Linked DNA regions of Homo sapiens: region 1 is linked to region 2. Evidence: fine-mapped expression QTL. A gene starts in region 2. The other region holds a variant in brackets. All regions are shown on one strand. Distances are between the middles of the regions. Region 1 has its middle 55 kb from the start of THAP12. Region 2 holds the start of THAP12 (THAP domain containing 12).

What was found.
Region 1: its variant is fine-mapped to the expression of THAP12 in whole blood (INTERVAL, PIP 0.94).

What each region holds. Positions count from the first base shown.
Region 1 is chr11:76,321,474-76,330,244 of GRCh38, reverse strand. No RefSeq gene overlaps it. Among named protein-coding and RNA genes, the nearest start is that of THAP12, 55 kb to the left of the region's middle. The variant A/T (reference allele first, on the strand shown) is at 5,236.
Region 2 is chr11:76,376,430-76,385,200 of GRCh38, reverse strand. It overlaps THAP12 (THAP domain containing 12), which reads left to right and starts at 4,069. Exons shown (of 5, transcript NM_004705.4): 1 at 4,069-4,453. The coding sequence starts at 4,365. It overlaps GVQW3 (GVQW motif containing 3), which reads right to left and starts at 3,878. Exons shown (of 2, transcript NM_001347885.2): 1 at 2,908-3,878. The coding sequence starts at 3,372. RefSeq lists a silencer at 3,791-4,720 and an enhancer at 4,363-4,864.

The sequences.
Region 1 (8,771 bases), 55 kb after region 2:
GGAGATGTGGCTAGAGGGTGAGACCAGCCCCTCAGGCCTTTAACATCAGGCTAAGCCAGCAGCCTACCAGCTGCTCCCCTGCCCAAAGCACCACCCCCAGAGCTCCCTGCAGGCGATGACAAGGATGAAGTGGGGAGGCAGGGGGAGAGTCAAGAGCTCACAAAGGTTCTGCTGTGCTTGACCAGGGCCTCCGCCAGAGCCAGATTGTTTGCTTGCTTGGAGGGAAGGATCTGATTTAAAAAGGTGGTGGCCCTGGGGTTCAGGGCCAGGCCTGCTGGCTGCCATCCTACACAGCAGCCCCACTCCAAACTCTCCATCCTGGGGCCCCCTCATTCCTCTTTACTTTGGTGTTCCCAGTTAGACCCAAGTAGGACTCCACAGCTTTGGGCAGAGGACTTACAAAGCAGCAGGGGCCAGTGCTCACACTTGGGACTCTAGATCACTGGGGGACCTGCAGGACCAGCCTGCTGGGGACTTCATGGAGAAGGAGGTGCGTGGAGGTGGCCCTTCACTGAGCACCTGCTGTATGCTGGGCATTGGGCAGGGCACTTCGTTTATGGGGTTCCCTTTTCATCCTTTAAGCAACAGTAGGTATTATTGTCTCCATTTTACAGACAAGAAAAGAGAGTCCTAGAAAGGCTAAGGGGACTCGCCCAGGTTTACACAGTGAGTCAGTGGTAGGGCTAGAATTCTAACTCAGGTTGGCCCCACCTGTGAATCTAATCTGTGCTTAACCCCTACACTGCTTTGTGCAGGACATAACCCTGTCTTGCACATGTCTGGCACAGAGTGAAGGTCCCATCATGTTGACTTTATCATGCACTTTCTCAGCTGGAGCTGTGGGCCTCACAGCAGCCCTTCGGGGTCAGTAATGCTTCTCTCGCTTTCATGATGTGGAGGCTCAAGCTTGCAGAAGTTGAGCAACTTGCCCAGGGTCACACAGCTAGTCGCAGAGGGTCAGGGAAGTCGGGGAAGTTCAAAGAAATGTGGAGTAGAGTGGGTTTGCCCAAGGAATGACAGGAATGTTCAAGGAACTGAAAGCTGGAAGTGTCTGCGGAAGCTGCAGATCTGCCGGCAAGCAGTGGGGCTGCTTATGGAGTAGTGAGCCCAGGCCCTGGAGCGGGGTCCTGGGGGACTCTCACTCAGCAGAAGAGCAGCCATCAGACACCTGGGCTTGGGACGCCTGCCTGGTCCCTTGTGTTACTTGGAAATGTCAGCAAGAAGGGCCCTTCACCGGGCATGTTTCTCTTCTGTCAGATGAGGGCTGTTAAATGAGGTCTTTGATTTTACTGTTCAGCAGTGGCATCTTTCTTTAAAATAGTCTTGGCCAGGCATGGTGGCTCACACCTGTAATCCCAGCACTTTGGGAGGCTGAGGCAGGTGGATCACCTGAGGTCAGGAGTTCGAGACCAGCCTGGCCAACATGGTGAAACCCCCGTCTCTACCAAAAATACAAAAATTAGCAGGGCATGGTGGCGTGTGCCTATAGTCCCAGCTACTCTGGAGGTTGAGGCAGGAGAATCGCTTAAACCCAGGAGGTGGAGGTTGCAGCGAGCCGAGATCGCGCCACTGCACTCCAGTCTGGGTGACAGAGTGAGACTCTGTCTCAAAAAAAAAAAAAAGTCTTAAGCTGAACTTTATTCATTCGCCCATTCAACAAATATTGAGACTTTCAAGGCACCTGAAACATATGGTTGACCAGACTTCTTCCTGCTTTGAGTGTCTCTGACTTGTGTTACAGAAATTAAGGGTCCCTACCCCTCCACTCAGGGTAGGAATGGGGCCACCTGGGCTGCTATGGGCCCATGCCCTCATTTGGGAGCTCCTTAACCATGGTGCTCCTCTGAAAGGTTCCCTGTCAGAGCTGAGTATATTCATATACTCACAATTGGCCATTTCACAGATTGGGTGGGAAGGCCCAAAGAGTGGGCCAAACCCTGGGTCCCCTGAAGCAGCCTCTTTGTGGCATCATTCATCAAAGAGGCTTTGTGCAATCGGAGGAAACTGGGCGTGTCCATGAGGAGAGAGAAGCAGCGAGGAGGCAAGAGTGAGCAAAGCCCACCAGGCGGGAAAGAGGCCCATTTTGCAGAAGCCAACCCCCTCCCTCCGCCTGGCAGAGCCTTCCTAACAACCTTCCCTCCTCCACCCACACCCGCCAGCCTCTGCCCAGAGCCAGGGTGTCAGCTTGGGTTTGGTGACAGCAGCCCTGAAGGAGGTGTTGGATGGTTGAAGCCCTCCATTGTAGCAGCTCTGGCATCTTCTATGAGCCCAGCCTCGCCAAGTTGTCCTCTTGCCAACTGGAGAGAGGCTGGCTCCTGAGGGATCCTCTCCAACTAGGTAACTCGATTCCCTGCAGCCCAGCACCAGCCCAGCTCTGGCCACCAGAGCCGGAGCTCTGAAGAGTTTACCTCCAACATGGCAGTGAGCAGTTTTCAAGGTCAAGGAGGGTGGCCACCAGGAGCTCCTGAGCCAGGGTGCATGGGGAGAACACAGGGCTGGCAGGCCAGGTTCTAGCTCCAGCTCTTCACTAACTTGCTGTGTGTCTTTGAATGTATCACCTCCTCACTCCGGACCTCAGTTCTCATAAAAGGGAGACTGACAGAAGGTCCCTAAGTGCTTACAGATGGACTGGCCAGGGTCGTCTTGGTCTATAGCATCCCTTTCAAATAAAGATCTGACTATTCTGTGCCTGGTGATCAGGGTGCCCAATGGCTGTGAGTCCCCCTCACCTGGCCTCTGGCCTTTCCAGTGGTAGGGAGAGCAGGGGCTGGCAGCTGCTGTCTTTGTTCTCAGCCTCTCTCAGAAGTCAGAGAACATTAGAAATTCAGTGGAACTACACTGGGTGTGGCTTCCACTTCCCTTAAGATAACCGAGTGAAACTGGATTTTTCTCAACAACTATGATAAAGCTTAAGAACAAGCTAGATATAGGATTCCACTTCACATCTGAATCCCTCAATTGACAAAAACCAATGTGTGAGTGATATTGTGAAATGACACTTTTGGCTTTCTCCCCTAGAATGTTACTATCACACATGTAAAGCATACTATTGTAATTTCACCTACCATTCACTGTTCACTGCCTTTTCATAAGGACAAACTGGACTCTATTGAGATTACGCTTTTCCCATTTTGGGCATCAAAAATTTATTTTAGATGAAGTAGTGGTGCAATAGTACACGACAGTTTTTCTTTTTTTCTTTTTTTAAAATTTTTTGAGATGGAGGATGGAGTCTTGCTCTGTCTCCCAGGCTGGAGTGCAGTGGTGCGATCTCGGCTCACTGCAACTTCTGCCTCCTGGGCTCAAGCAATTCTCTGGCCTCAGCCTCCTGAGTAGCTGGGATTACAGGCACCTACCATCATGCCTGGCTAATTTTTGTAGTTTTAGTAAAGATGGCCAGGCTGGTCTCAAACTCCTGACCTTGAACTTCTGGCTGATCTGCCCACCTTGGCCTCCCAAAGTGCTGGGATTACAGGGGTAAGCCACCACGCCCAGCCTAGTACATGATATTTTTCGAGTAAACTTTTCACAAAGTCTAATATGTATTCAGAATAATCAGACTCCTAAATGTACAGCTTGATGCCTTACCACTAAGTGAACACACCATGGAACCACAGAACATCATGATAGTTCTTTTTCTAATGTTTTTTGTTTGTTTGTTTTGTTTTGTTTGTTTGTTTTGGTTTTTTTAGCAAACTAAAAAAGCTGGTAACTTTACGCTGGTCACCTCCTCTTCATTTAAATTTTACCAGTTGGTAAAATCTAGAATTTGGAGATGTTCTGGGCTAGCCGATCTAATAATGTTCCACGCAGTGCTGCTGGAGCCCTTGGAGCCATTATCTTCTGTGACACACCAACCAGAGGGAAGCAGACGTGGGCCAGGGGCCCACTTCACCCCATCTCAAGAGATAGGAAGAATCCGGCCAAAACATCCCCTCCAGATTCAGCAGAGTTGGCTGCTTGATGCCAGAGCCAAGGGGCAGTGAGGAGGAGTGGCTTTGGATGGGAGATGCTGGAGGATGAATCATTCCTCCCATTCAGGCCTCTCTCGCAGCCTCTTTTCATCAGCCATTACTTTTCCCTTCCACCCACCCACCCCAGGGGCAGGTCTTCCGGACACCTAGGAATCCTCAGGTGCATGTTGTGCATCACCATTGCCATCCCCTCTCCCCCACTCAATTCTCAAGTCACAGCTCTGAGACCCAGGAAGCATCCTCTGACCGTTTTTTTCCCTATTGATAATGGAGAAACCCTGGCACCTTTGTGAAAGGCTATGAAAGTTGTTCAAAATCACACAACAGGCTGGGAATCCAGGAGGCCACATCCGCTCAACCAAGGCAATGCACATTTGTCAAGGACTTGCTTTGTACCCAAACACAGACCAAGGTGATTCTAAGGAAGAAGACCCTTTCTGTTCAGTAAGTCTTAAGTACTATTATGCTCAATAAATATGTGCCTGGCCCTCACTAGGTGTTGACCATTCATGCATTCAGCAAATATTTTATTGAGCAGTCTCTCTGTGTCACTGCTTTTGACTCTAAATTATTTGCTTATACTACTACTTCTTGATTTTTCAGTTTCTTTCTCTTTCTCTCTCTCTTTCCCCTTACTTTCTCCACACTCACATGTACATTTTGTGTCTCCCTACTTCCACCTAGTATCACAAGTTTGATTGGAACAGTATTCATGTTTTCATTATTAGGCTACGTAAATGCTATTGACAACTGGGCCGTGTAGTATTCTATAATTATTTTTCCTTCCCTGCATAACAATTGTGGTTATGCATATCTCCTTTCAATATGTTTAAATGCATTGGCTAGTCTACTGATTTCATCTTCCTGAAGAAGTCCCTCCCAGAGTCTTCCACCATGTCCCATTAGGATGAATTGTCTTCTATTGCACAATAGAATAGAATGGCCTGGGGATTCCTTTGCCCCTATCCTTTGTTACATTTTCTTTTCCTTGGATGCCATGTTTTCCTCTTTCTTGGTTAACTCCCTCACTTCTGTTGAAGCACATCCTCCAGAAGCTTCCTCAGGAAACATGCAAAGATAATTCACATGACTAGAAATGTATTCTCTCTTCACCCTTGATCATCAGTTGGCTGGGTGGAAATATAACTTTCTGGGATGGAAATATAACTTTCTTCAGAATTTTGGAGACATTTCCCCATTTTGCAGCAATATCTTATTTCTTAGGATGTTAATTATAGTTTTAAGTTTTCAGCTTTTTGCA[A/T]AGTTGCCAGCTTCTAAGTTCCTTTGTTGTTTCCCCCTATTCTTTTGACTTCTTTTTTAATTAGAGGCTTTTCTCAAATGCTTACTCATCCTTTGCTGTCTGCTCATATTTAAGAATGAGACACTAAAACAGATTTGATACCCTCTGAACATGATTGGGGCTGTGCACATGATTGGGCCATTCCATGTCTTTTATTTTGTGCTAGTCAAAAGAAAAGCTCCTCCAATCTCCTGCCTGAAGCATTCTGTGTATCCTGTCTGGAGTATTAGTATTTTGCCAGGAGAGAGAGTATCTGGAAGTCTGATTGTTTTCCAAGCAATCTTTCTGTTTTTAGCCTCCACCCCGCCCACCTCCGACCCACCCACTTTCCAGAGGTACCTGGTACAACCAACTCCTGAACCATTTGGGGGTTTAACAGTGTAAATTGGGCTGATTTTCAACTTTCTTTATTGCCTTTTAGGATTTAATCAATTACCATTCTTTGTTGGCTGTGTCTGGTTTCCAATATTATGATAAATCCCTTTAGTGTTGTTTTAGTTGGTTTCAGGGAAGACCATAGTGCGAGTTCCGCTTGCTATCTTTATTCTAGTTCAATTTTTAAATGGGCAGTAACAACACATTTCAGAGCAGGAAGTCTCTGTTTAAAGTTATAAACATTAACAGAGACTGTAACCAGAATATGGAAAAGGGCCTAGAGGGGCCCTTCCCCACCAGTTCTTTACCTATTAAGACTCCTGGCTCTAAAAGCCCAGGTCAAAAGCCACTCCTTGCGATGCCTTCCTCAGACTGCCCAGCTTGTATTTGTTTTATTCAAGTTAGGCCAACTGAGTGATAGACATTACAGTACTTTATAGACATTATTCCATTTAAACCTTTACACTCTAAAGTGATAGACTTTTGGAGAGGTGGATGCACTGATCAAGATCCCACAGCCTTCCTGACCACTTCACAGGTGGAAAACTGAGGTGGTCCCATGGCCAGAGCTAAGAAAGGCGGTGCTGATTCCTGGGCCCCCGCTGCTCACGGCGCCCTTTGGCATCACAGTAGGCCAAGGGCAGCTCACTCTTTGGTGGCCCCAAGAATAACGGGGGCAGTTTACTGAGAGATCTCAGTAAACTGACAGTTTACATTTACTGAGATTGTAACAGTCCAAGGGGTTCACCTTGCCCACTGCCTGGACAGAGCCGATTCTTCAAGACAGGGGAATTGCAATAGAGAAAGAGTAATTCATGCAGAGCTGGCTGTGCGGGAGACCAGAGTTTTATTATTACTCAAATCAGTCTCCCCAGGCATTGGGGAGCAGAGTTTTGAAGGATAACTTGGTGGGTGGGGGGAAGACAGTGTGCCAGGAGTGCTGATTGGTCAGAGATGAAATCACAGGGAGTGGAAGCTGTCTTCTTGCGCTGAGTCAGTTCCTGGGTGGGGGCCACAAGATCAGATGAGCCAGTTTATTGATCTGGGTGGTGCCAGCTGATCCATCAAGTGCAGGGCCTGTGAAACATCTCAAGCACTGATCTTAGAGCAGGTTAGAGAGGGTCAGAATCTTGTATCCTCCAGCTGCATATAATTCCTTATCTTGTGGCTAATGTTAGACCTGCCAAAGCAATCTAGTCCCCAGGCAAGAAGGAGGTCTGCTTTGGGAAAGGTCTGTTACCATCTTTGTTTAAACAATAAACTATAAACTAAATTTCTCCCAAAGATAGTTCAATCTATGCTTAGGAATGAACAAGGACAGCTTGGAGGTTAGAAGCAAAATGGAGTCAGTTAAGTTAGATCTCTTTCACTGTCTCAGTCATAATTTTACAAAGGCGGTTTCAAGATCTCTCAGTAAATGACAGACCTGAGACTTAAACTCAGGTCTCTACCATGCAGCCCTTCTGACATAATTGCTGACTTTGAGGAGCCCCAAAGGTAGAGCTCATATTTTGGTGAAAAAATGGCACATGGTACTGCAGTCAGCCCTGGGCACGTACAAGGAGCACCAAATGGGGGTGAAGGAGTGGTGTTCAGTTCAGAGGAAAGAGGGCTTCCTCCCAAATGACCAGGGCTGCCTTTGCAGAGGTGGTAGCATCTGAGCTCATCACCCCACAGGTTCAGGATGGCTTCTTTCCTTGCCTAGGGGATGGGCGGTGACAGTGAATAATAATGATGGTGGTGGTGAAGTTAGTAAAGCACTTTTACTCACATCTCTTTGATTTTACAGAACCTTGTGGGCTGAATGTTATCTCCACTTTAGGCAAGATAAAATCAAGACACAGAGAAGTTAGTCACCCAGCAGGAAAGCCTGGGCTTCAGGGTCCAAGTCCCTCCCTTCCGAGTCCTCGCTCTCTGCTCTCTGCTGTAACTAGGCCGAGGGGGAAGCTTCCTATTCCAAAGCATCTCTTCACCAGTGCTTCACAACATGTGGACTATTTCCTTGTTTTAAAGAGCTGATTTCTGGGTCCCATCTCAGACCTACTGCGTCTCTGGGAGATGGGGCCTTGAAATCTGCATTTTAACAACTGTCCCCGTGATTCTTGTGGTCACCTAAGAGTGAGATGCCCTCGGCCTACTGGGATGCTGAAGGACGCTGTGAGCAGCGGGGGCCCAGGAATCAGCACTGCCTTTCTTAGCTCTGGCCATGGGACCACCTCAGTTTTCTGCCTGAGAAGTGGGCAGAGTCGAGACTCCGAGGGTGCCACGCCCCGGCTGCCACCCCGCCAGCACAGGCGAGCGCCACACCTGCGTCTCTCCCAGGCTCCCTCCCTTCTCCGTCCCGCCCGCCCGGGTGGAAGGAAACAGCTGGGGGCTCTTCTTTTCCAGGCTGCGGTCGCCTCCTCTTCGGTTGCGGACGGGCCGAGGTTGGGGGCTCGGGCCGCTTTCCGCACGCGCCGACCCCCGCCGGGGACCGCAGGGGACCCGAGTGCGCGGGGCTTCCCGCCCGCCGGGCAGCCTCCCCCACCCCGCCTGCCCCGCCGGCAGCCCACAAATATTCCCGAGGCCCGGAGGGGGCAGAAAACGCCTTTCCAGCGCGTCTTCTGGCCCCGGCCCACCTTTCTGCGCGCGGAACCCTTCGAGGAGAGGCCTGGACACCCGTCAGTACCGCGCCCCCAAACCCTCGCCCTGCGCAGCCCGAGGGCGCAAGCGTGGGCCTTGTGGGGCGGGCATGGGCAGGGCAGGCAGACACAGACCCAGGGTGGGAGCTGGGGGAGGGCACCCCACTCAATCCGGGGCTCAGGGAAGGCGTCCTGGAGGGATTTCAGCTAAGCTCTGAAAGATGAACGGATATGATGGACAGAGGGAACAGAATATGCAAAGACCAACAGGGGGGCAGTTGGAGAAATTCCAAATACTGTGTGTTGTTGAAACGCTGAATTCAAGGTGTAGTGGCTCAAGATGGGGCTGGAGAGAGTGGGGAGAGCCAGTCCCGAGCAGGTCCTTGGCAAACCATGCTGGAGGATGGGCGACTCTGAGGGATTGTAAGCAGGACCCTGACTGGCCAGTCATTTGCTTTCCGGGAAGGCCACTCTGGCTGGTGTCGGGGGGGGGCGGGGGGG
Region 2 (8,771 bases):
TAGCCAATTGGAACCATTTGAATTCACACTCCTAATTACCTGCTTCTGGTTGCTGTGTCTAAACCATGTCTGGACCAACATAGCTTCTGGTACTCTACACTCCACCATGGGTCTTGGTCCAGCATCACTGGCAGGGACATACCAGCCCTGTTCATAGGACTGGAATAAAATCCAGAAGTAAGTTGTCTCAGGACCTCTGTTTAATAACAGGTTAGAAACAACTCCTGTAGGTATGGTTGTGGGATCCTGGCCTGGGACCAGGAGCATATAAATCTGCAACAATTACCACTGGGTAGGCCTTAGCAAGGATTACTATGAGGTTCAGCAACAAAGCTGCAAGAACTAGTGGTGGGGACTTTGTTCCTAAAGTGCAGTGTCCCTGGTGCCAAGTGCTTGTGGGCAACCTAGAGCCGCATCTGATGTAGGAAGACTTCATTGTCCTGAAATGGAATGTCTAGAAACTGTTAAGGAGCTGGAGGTCTATAAGCTGTTGTTTGGTTTAAGAGTTTTCTTACACAGTATCTTCTCTTTGTGGGACAACGTCTAGCTTTCAAGGTGTCTCAAAACTAACAGGTGTTGACCCGGCGTGGTGGCTCACGCCTGTAATCCCAGCACTTTGGGACGCCGAGGTGGGTGGATCACCTGAGGTCAGAAGTTCAAGACCAGCCTGGCCAACATGGTGAAACCCCGCCTCTACTAAAAATACAAAAAATAGCCGGGTGTAGCAGCATGCACCTGTAATCCCAGCTACTCAGGAGGCTGAGTCAGGAGAAACACTTGAACCTGGGAGGCGGAGGTTGTAGTGAGCTGAGATCGTGCCACTGCACTCCAGCCTGGGCAGCAGAGCAAGACTCCATCTCAAAAAACAAAACAAAACAAAAACAGGTGTTAATGAGGAACTTGTAATTTTTGGAGGTGAGTAGAGAAAGTGAAAGAACAGCACTAAAAGTAACTGTGATGAATGAGTGTTGTGCCTCTACTATCAAGCAATATTGTTTAAGAGGAGCTGTTATATCTAAAAATCCTTGAGTAAAACAAAGACTGGCCAATTCTGTGAAATGCTATTACCAAACCCCTGCCCCCTGAATGTTTCCAGTCTATGTGGTATTACTTGGAACCCACTTGGGAAAAGTTCCATTCCATAAATCCTGGCAGAGGCAGGAAGAGAAGAGACAGAGTTTGAACTTGCAGAAACTGCTTGTCGGGGTCCAAATGGAAAATCAGATATCAAATTGGTTGTTACAAACCTATTCACAGACTCAGGGGAAGCAATTTAACAACAAGTGGCATAGAGTTGGAGGCTTAGGAGAGAAAGCAAATTATCCCAAATTGTTCATCTGCTGCAACACCATTATCTTCCTCTTTAAACTTTGTTATTTTAGCCAATAGTGTCATCATTTTCTAATTCCTTTTTTTTTTTTTTGGGACAGAGTCTAGCTCTGTCGCCAGGTTGGAGTACAGTGGCGCAATCTCCACTCACTGCAACCTCTGCCTTCCGGGTTCAACAGATTCTCCTGCCTCAGCCTCCTGAGTAGTTGGGACTACAGGTGTGCACCACCACGCCCAGCTAATTTTTGTATTTTTAGTAGAGACGGGGTTTCACCATGTTGGCCAGGATGGTCTCGATCTCTTGACCTTGTGATCCACCCACCTCAGTCTCCCAAAGTGCTGGGATTACAGGCGTGATTCACCACACCTGGCCAGTGTCATTTTCTACTGATGCAGGTTGGAAGCCTCATGCTGTTCCACCTGCCCCGGAAGCTTTCCCTAATTTCACAGCCCTGTCTCACCCATCCTCATGGATCCAGTTCAAGAACCATCTCATCCATGAAGCCCATCAGCCCTTGGAGATCTTGTTCATAACCTCCACATTGTCAATGCCCAGCAGTGTCCTAAAAACAGCAAGTTCTCAAAACTATAGGCATTAGTTACTAAAAACAGGCTGCTGTGTGGGAATCCGCACATAGGCAGCAGGCTCCCTTAATTCAGGGACTAGAGAGCCACCTGGTCTTCCTCCCCACACAACACAGCCTTGCCTGGGTCCCCGGGTTTATATTTTCTAGCACCAGATCCTCCTCTTCCAACAGGGGTGATACCCAAATGAGTGGAGGTCCAAAGCATAGGACTAGAATGAAACAAACCCAGCTCTTCTGTGAGGTGTAGGCCTGTGAGAAGATCAGTATTGGTGGCCAACCCCTGATTCCTAAGGGTGCCTACTGAGTCATCTGGGCCAGATCAGCCCCTAGGCCCAGCACTGTTCAGTAATACCAGCATGCTACTACCTTCTGTACCATACCTCAGGCCCTGACTGCAAAGCAGGCTGAAACTGTAAGCCTTCTTTTGGGGTCCTCCCAGAAAAGCATGCTTCCCTGGGCACAGAGATACAGATTCCAGGAGATCCTGTTCCTCTCTTCTCACTGGCATGATCCTCTGAGGCAGAAGGTTGAGAACAAAGGAACAGGACAGCCACAACAAGCTAAGGTCTGGGCAGAGAAGAAATCCAAACTTGTTGAGCAAAAGAAATCAAGAACAAGCAAATACCAGAAGGGAACAGCCAAAAGTTTTTCAAAGTTATGGAGAACAGCAAGGAAAATGGTCCAAGAGTCCAGCAAAGAGTAATGAGGAGGGCCATGGCACATAGGGAGGAGTGGTGAAGACTGAAAAATACGTGAGCAGCCAAAGAAGGTGCCTAACAGTGAGGCAGCATCCTAGTTCTGGTTCAGCTAACTCACATTCCTCTCACCATGGGGTGAACCAATTCTCAGCTACCCTGGGGGGAAGGCTTGTTGAAGATGACGCCTGCAGAAGCTGACTGGCAGAGTAGTGGACTCTGGGATGGGATACCGGCAGGGGCATTTCCCCACCAGCTTCACCCTGGAGATAACTCCATGTTTCAGAACCTGTTACCTTTTTCCTCAAACATGAGCTATTTTTCCTAGTTTCCTTTGAAAGATCGGACCGAAAGTCAAGTTTTCGTGGTTTAGGCTCACCCTTCAAAACACCCGAAATAACTTTTGCAGAAATCTTCCTCATGTTCAAGTTTTCTTTCAAAATGAGCCTAACAGTTTCTTTGTCTAAATTTAACTCTTCAGCCATCATCCTCACGGTTAACTGCCTGTTTGAACAAACCAAGTCCTTGACCTTCTGGATATTGTCATCTGTTCGGTGGGTGACTGGACGCCCACTTCGGGCATCATCTCGAACATCTTCCCGTCCTTCTTTAAACCTTTTGTGCCAGTCAAAAACTCTGGCCCTTGACATGACTTCATCCCCATAAGCTTCTTTTAAAAGATGGTGGGTCTCACTTGCAGACTTGTTCAATTTCACGCAAAATTTGATACTAATCCTTTGTTCTAAATAGCGGTCACTCATTCTGGCACTGAACAACACAGGAACGTTTAACAGGCCACGACTGTAAGGGAAAGACGGACAGATCAATCTTTATAGGGCTGCAGGTGTAATCATATCGCTCTTCTTGCTCTTCTAGAAGCCTCGCCGGGAAAGAGTAATTGCTTTTATGAATTTTTGTCCCTCAGCTTCCAGTCGAGGCTGGGGAGATCCGTTCTGGGAAGCCAACAGTCGCTGCAAAGCTGGGAAAAATTAAATCGCCTACAACCACGTCTGCATCAAACCAGTGCACGCACATCTGCCGAGAGTTTGCCAGTCACCAAGGTCGCTCCGATTCCGCGGCCCTTAAGGAGTATATGGCGAATTCTGCAAGAAAGGCCTAAGTGGTGGCAAATTAAGCAAGCAAGAAGAGATGCATCGGTGATGTAACGTGCAAGCTCGCCCTAGATCTGCAGAAACCCGCGCACGCCAAACCTACCGGAGCAGCCCAGGAACCGCCTGCTCTAGCGTCCCGGGAGACAGGCGCGCATGCGCAATTCTCTCTCCCCGCGGATTAGACTGTGCGCAGTCGCACTGCGGCGGCGCGCGCCAGGTCCCGCCTCCGCCTCGCCACACCCCGGCAGGCGCGCTTCCTTGCGCGTGCCCGCCTGCTGAGAAGGCGGAAAGGAGGGGCGGGGGAGGAAGGCTGAGGGAAGAGAGGGCACCCCCGGGCGTCAGGGTGCATTGTGGGAAGGAGGCGGCAGCGTCTCGGGCGGGCGGGAGGTGCACCAGCGGCGGCGGCGGCGGTAAATCCTCCCGGCCGCTCACAGCACTGTGGAGCCGCGTCCCCAGCCCGGCCTCGGACCGCGGCACCCCTCCTGGCCCTCGCGGCTTCTAGCCCGCCCGCCCCTCCCCCGCGCGTCGGCCCTGCCGAGCCGGCCGGCCGGCCTGGCTCCCCTCCCCGGCCCCGACGGGCGGGCGGACTGCCCTGAGGAGGCGGGGAGGGGAGGGCTGGGCCGGCCGGCGGGCGGGCGACGATGCCGAACTTCTGCGCTGCCCCCAACTGCACGCGGAAGAGCACGCAGTCCGACTTGGCCTTCTTCAGGTTCCCGCGGGACCCTGCCAGGTAAGCGGCGGGCGCAGAGCGGGCGGCCCGGGCCCACCTTCGCGGTGAGCGCTGCCAGCCGCCGGCCCCTGGCGGGCTCCCGGGCTGGCTGAGAGGGGCGCAGGAGGCGGGCGCAGCGCACTGCCGTCGACCCCAGCGTTGGACCGAGATGGGGAGCCGGCCCCGAGCCGTGGGCGGGCGGGCGTCCGGGGACCTCGGAGCACGTGCGCTGGTGGGGGCTCTGCGCGGAGGACACCACCCCAAACGCGAGGGAGCTGGGGCGGCGCGCGGACGCGGGATGCTGTGGGTTCTCGCCGTGGCTCACTTGCTGTGTGACCTCGGGGGAGTCGCTTTCCTCTCTGGGCGTTAGTTTCCTTAGCTGTCAAAAGAGAGCAGGACTCTATGGTTGTGGCCACTGGGGCCTTTCCCTCTCCTTGCCACCACCCCCGGGACAGTGTTTCTGTTTTGAGTCCCGCTACCTTCTTTCATCTCATCGCAACTGCTTTCTCCTTCGGACTTGTCATTGCACGGTTCAGGATTCATTTTCTGGCTGTCACCGTTACTCATTTTCTCGCTTGGGTATTGTAGGGATAACAGAGGGTGTACGCGTGAGGGCGTGGAAATTGGTATTGGAACCTCTTCCTTCGGATAACCCCCACACACTGACATATTTAGGGAATGATAGCATAGGGACTGTGTTTGAAAGGCTGAGATGTTTCATAGGCCTGTCTTGTTGGTTCATTCATTTAAAATCAATGCCTACTATGTGCCGAGCGCAAATGTTAGGTGCTGGGAGTTCATGGGTGAATAAGGGTGTCACTGCTTGCAGAAAGCTCTCAGTCCAGTAAGGGAACAGGTGCAGCAACGGGCGACTATAATTTATGTTATTTATTAATTAGTTCAATTAATTATTGAAGGTCTACTTGTGTTGGCATTGTTGTGAGCAGTGGGGGTTACAGATGAACAAATCGAAGTCCTTGCTTTCATGAAGATTACATTCTAATGGGGGGGGAATAAACAAGTAAAATACGTAGTGTGTCGGATGATGATAAATACTGTGGAGAAAAATAAACAAAGGTTAGAGGGTAGGGGAATAAGTAGTATCAAGGGACGCACAATTGCTATTTTAAATACAGTGATTAGAGAAGGCCTCACTAAGAAGGTGAATTTGAGCAAAGACCAGGTGAAGGGGCCAGCCATGGAGATACCTTGGGCAGCAGCATTCCAAAGAAGGCAAAGACAGGGCAACCAGGAGTCCAGGGAGAGGGACTGGGAGAGAGGTGAGATGAGACCAGAAAGGTGTGTGTATGGTAGGGGCAAATTCTTTAGGTAGGACCTTGTAGGTCTTGGAAGGCACTATGGTTTTTATTATGAGTGAAATAGGAAGTCATTGAAGGGTTTAGAGCAGAGACTTAAATTTTAACAGGATCAGTGGCTGCTCATTAGATTGTGGGGAGGCAAAGGTGAAAGCCGGAAGACCAGTTAAAAGGCTGTTGTAATAATCCAGATTAATAGAGGAGGAGATGGTAAATTTGAGATATGGTTTGAAGGTGAAGCCAACATCATTTGCTAATGGTTTGGAGGTAGATTGTAAAAGAAAAAGAGAACTTAAGGACGACTTCAAGATTTTAAAAATCTATGTTGGCCAGGTTGGTCTTGAACTCCTGGCTTCAAGCAGTCCTCCTGTGTCGGTCTCCCAAAGTGCTAGAACAGGCTCTGAGCCACCGCGCCCAGCCGACTTCAAGATTTTTAACGTGAGCATTTGCTGAGATAGGGAAGACTGGGAAGAGCAGGTTTGGTAGAGGAATACTAGAAGTTTGGGTTTGAGAGACCTGATAGACATTCAAGAATAGATGTCTAGGCCGGGCATGGTGGCTCACACCTGTAATCCCAGCACTTTGGGAGGCCTAAGCAGGCGGATCACTTGAGGTCAGGAGTTCGAGACCAGCCTGGCCAACATAGGGAAACCCTGTCTCTATTAAAAAATACAAAAATTAGCTGAGCCCAGTGGTGCGTGCCTGTCCAGCTACTCAGGAGGCCAAGACGTGAGAATCGCTTGAACCCAGGAGGCAGAGGTTGCAGTGAGCCGAGATCGTGCCACTGCACTCCAGTCAGGGTGACAGAACAAGACTCCGTCTCAAGAAAGAAAGAATAGATGAAAAAAAAAAAAGAATAGATGTCTTTCTTCATACCATATACAGAAATGAACTCCAAATGGCCTATACTTTTATTGAGATCAAAGGCCTAAATATAAGAGCTATGTCATTAAACTTTTAGGAAAAAAATACAGATAAATCTTCATGACTTTAGATTTGGCAGCACATTCTTGTTTGTTTTTTGTTTTTTTTGAGAGTCTCACTCTGTTGCCCAGGCTGCAGTGCAGTGGCACAGTCTCAGCTCACTGCAACCTCTGCCACCGATGTTCACAAACTATTCTACTCACTCAGCCTCCCAGGTAGCTGGGATTGCAGGCATCCGCCACCATGCCTGGCTAATTTTTGTATTTTTTTTTAGTCAAGACGGGGTTTCGCCATGTTGGCCAGGCTGGTCTCGAACTCCTGATCTCAGGTGATCTGCCCGCCTTGGCCTCCCAAAGTGCTGGGATTACAGGTGTAAGCCACCGTGCTTGGCTGGCACCACATTCTTAGATATGACACCAAAATACATGCAGTAAAAAGAAAAATAGACTAATTGGACTTCATCAAAATTAAACTTTTGTGTATCAAAGAACATTACCAAGAAAGTGAAAAGAATGGAAGAAGGTACTTGCAAATAATACATTTGATCTGGGTCCAGTATCCAGAATATATAAAGAACTCTTACAATTCAGCAACAAAAAGACAACCCAATTTTAAAATAGGCAAAGGACTTCTTTCTTTAAACAGAAGATATAAATGGCTAAAAAGCACATGAAAAGATGCTGAGCATCACTCGTTATTAGAGAAGTTCAAATCAAAACCACAAGTGGCAGTTAGATGTAGAATTACTGTGTGTCCCAGCAATTCCATTCCTAGGCGTATATCCAAAGAATTGCAAACTGATATTCAAAAAAACCAAATGTACACACATTCATAGCAGCACTATTCGCAATAGTCAAAAGGTAGAAACAAGCCACGTTTATCAGTGCTTGAATGGATAAACAAAATGTATATCAATACAATGAAATATTAGCCATGAAAAGGAATGAAGTGCCAGTACATACTACAGTATGGGTGAACCTCAGAAACATTATGCTAAGTGAAAGAAGTCAGATACAAAAGCTTATATGTTGTATGATTCTATTATATTAAATATCCAGAATAAGTAAATCCATAGAGATAGAAAGCATATCAGTGGTTGCCTGGGGCTGGGCGAAAGGGAGAGTGGGGAGCAACTGATTAATGGTTACAAGGTTTCCTTTTGAGGTGATGAAAATGTTTTAGAATTAGGTAGTGGTGATGGTTGCAGAACATGATGAATGTGTTAATTGCCATTAGTTTTTTACTTTAAAATGGTTAGTTTTATGTTATGAGAATTTCACCTCAAAGAAAATAGATGTCTTGAAGAGAGAATAGGATATACAAGTCTGAAATTCAGAGACTTTCAAACCGGAAATTGTAAATATGGGTGTTCTCAGTTTATAGAGGGTATTTAAAACCGTGGTACGGGTTAAGGTTATCTAAGGAGTGAGCAAAGAACAGATCTGAGGATTGAGTCCTGGGGCATTCCCAGTGTTTTAAGTTCCGAGACATGGGAAAGAACTCGCTCAGTACAGTGAGGAGTAGCAGTTGGGAACAGAGGAGAGGAGCATCTTAGTCTGACTTGGCCTTGCCCCATTATGCGTTATCTTCCTTTTACCCAAATTTTAGCCCAAAGACATTCTTACAGGTTTATTTCACTTCCATAATGAGGGCACCCCTAGTCAGTTCTGGACCACAGGTCATTTGTATTAATATGTAGTGAATCCTGTTTTGACTACACTCCTTAAGGGGAGTATAGTCTATAGGGGTTTACAGTTTCAGATTTGAAAGAAGTGTTTAGATCTAGTGAAATCTCACTTGAAATACTGGAATTTTCTCAATAATAGTGACTTTTATCATTTTTAGGGTTATTATCCCTTTTGAGAATCTAGCATAAGGACTCTTACCTGAAAAAAAAAAAAAAACAAAAAAAACATAGACACAATTTAGCATTCGAAGACAAAGATGTTTATGGGCCTTTATAGGCCCTGTGCATTCCTGACAGATGGGCATCTTTGCCCTTGCTAAAACACCTCTAATGATAGTCCTCCCCTTTGTGAGAAGACACGTGATGATTCTGGACGCTTTGGCTGTTGTTTCTTCCTTGTATTGAGTGGACA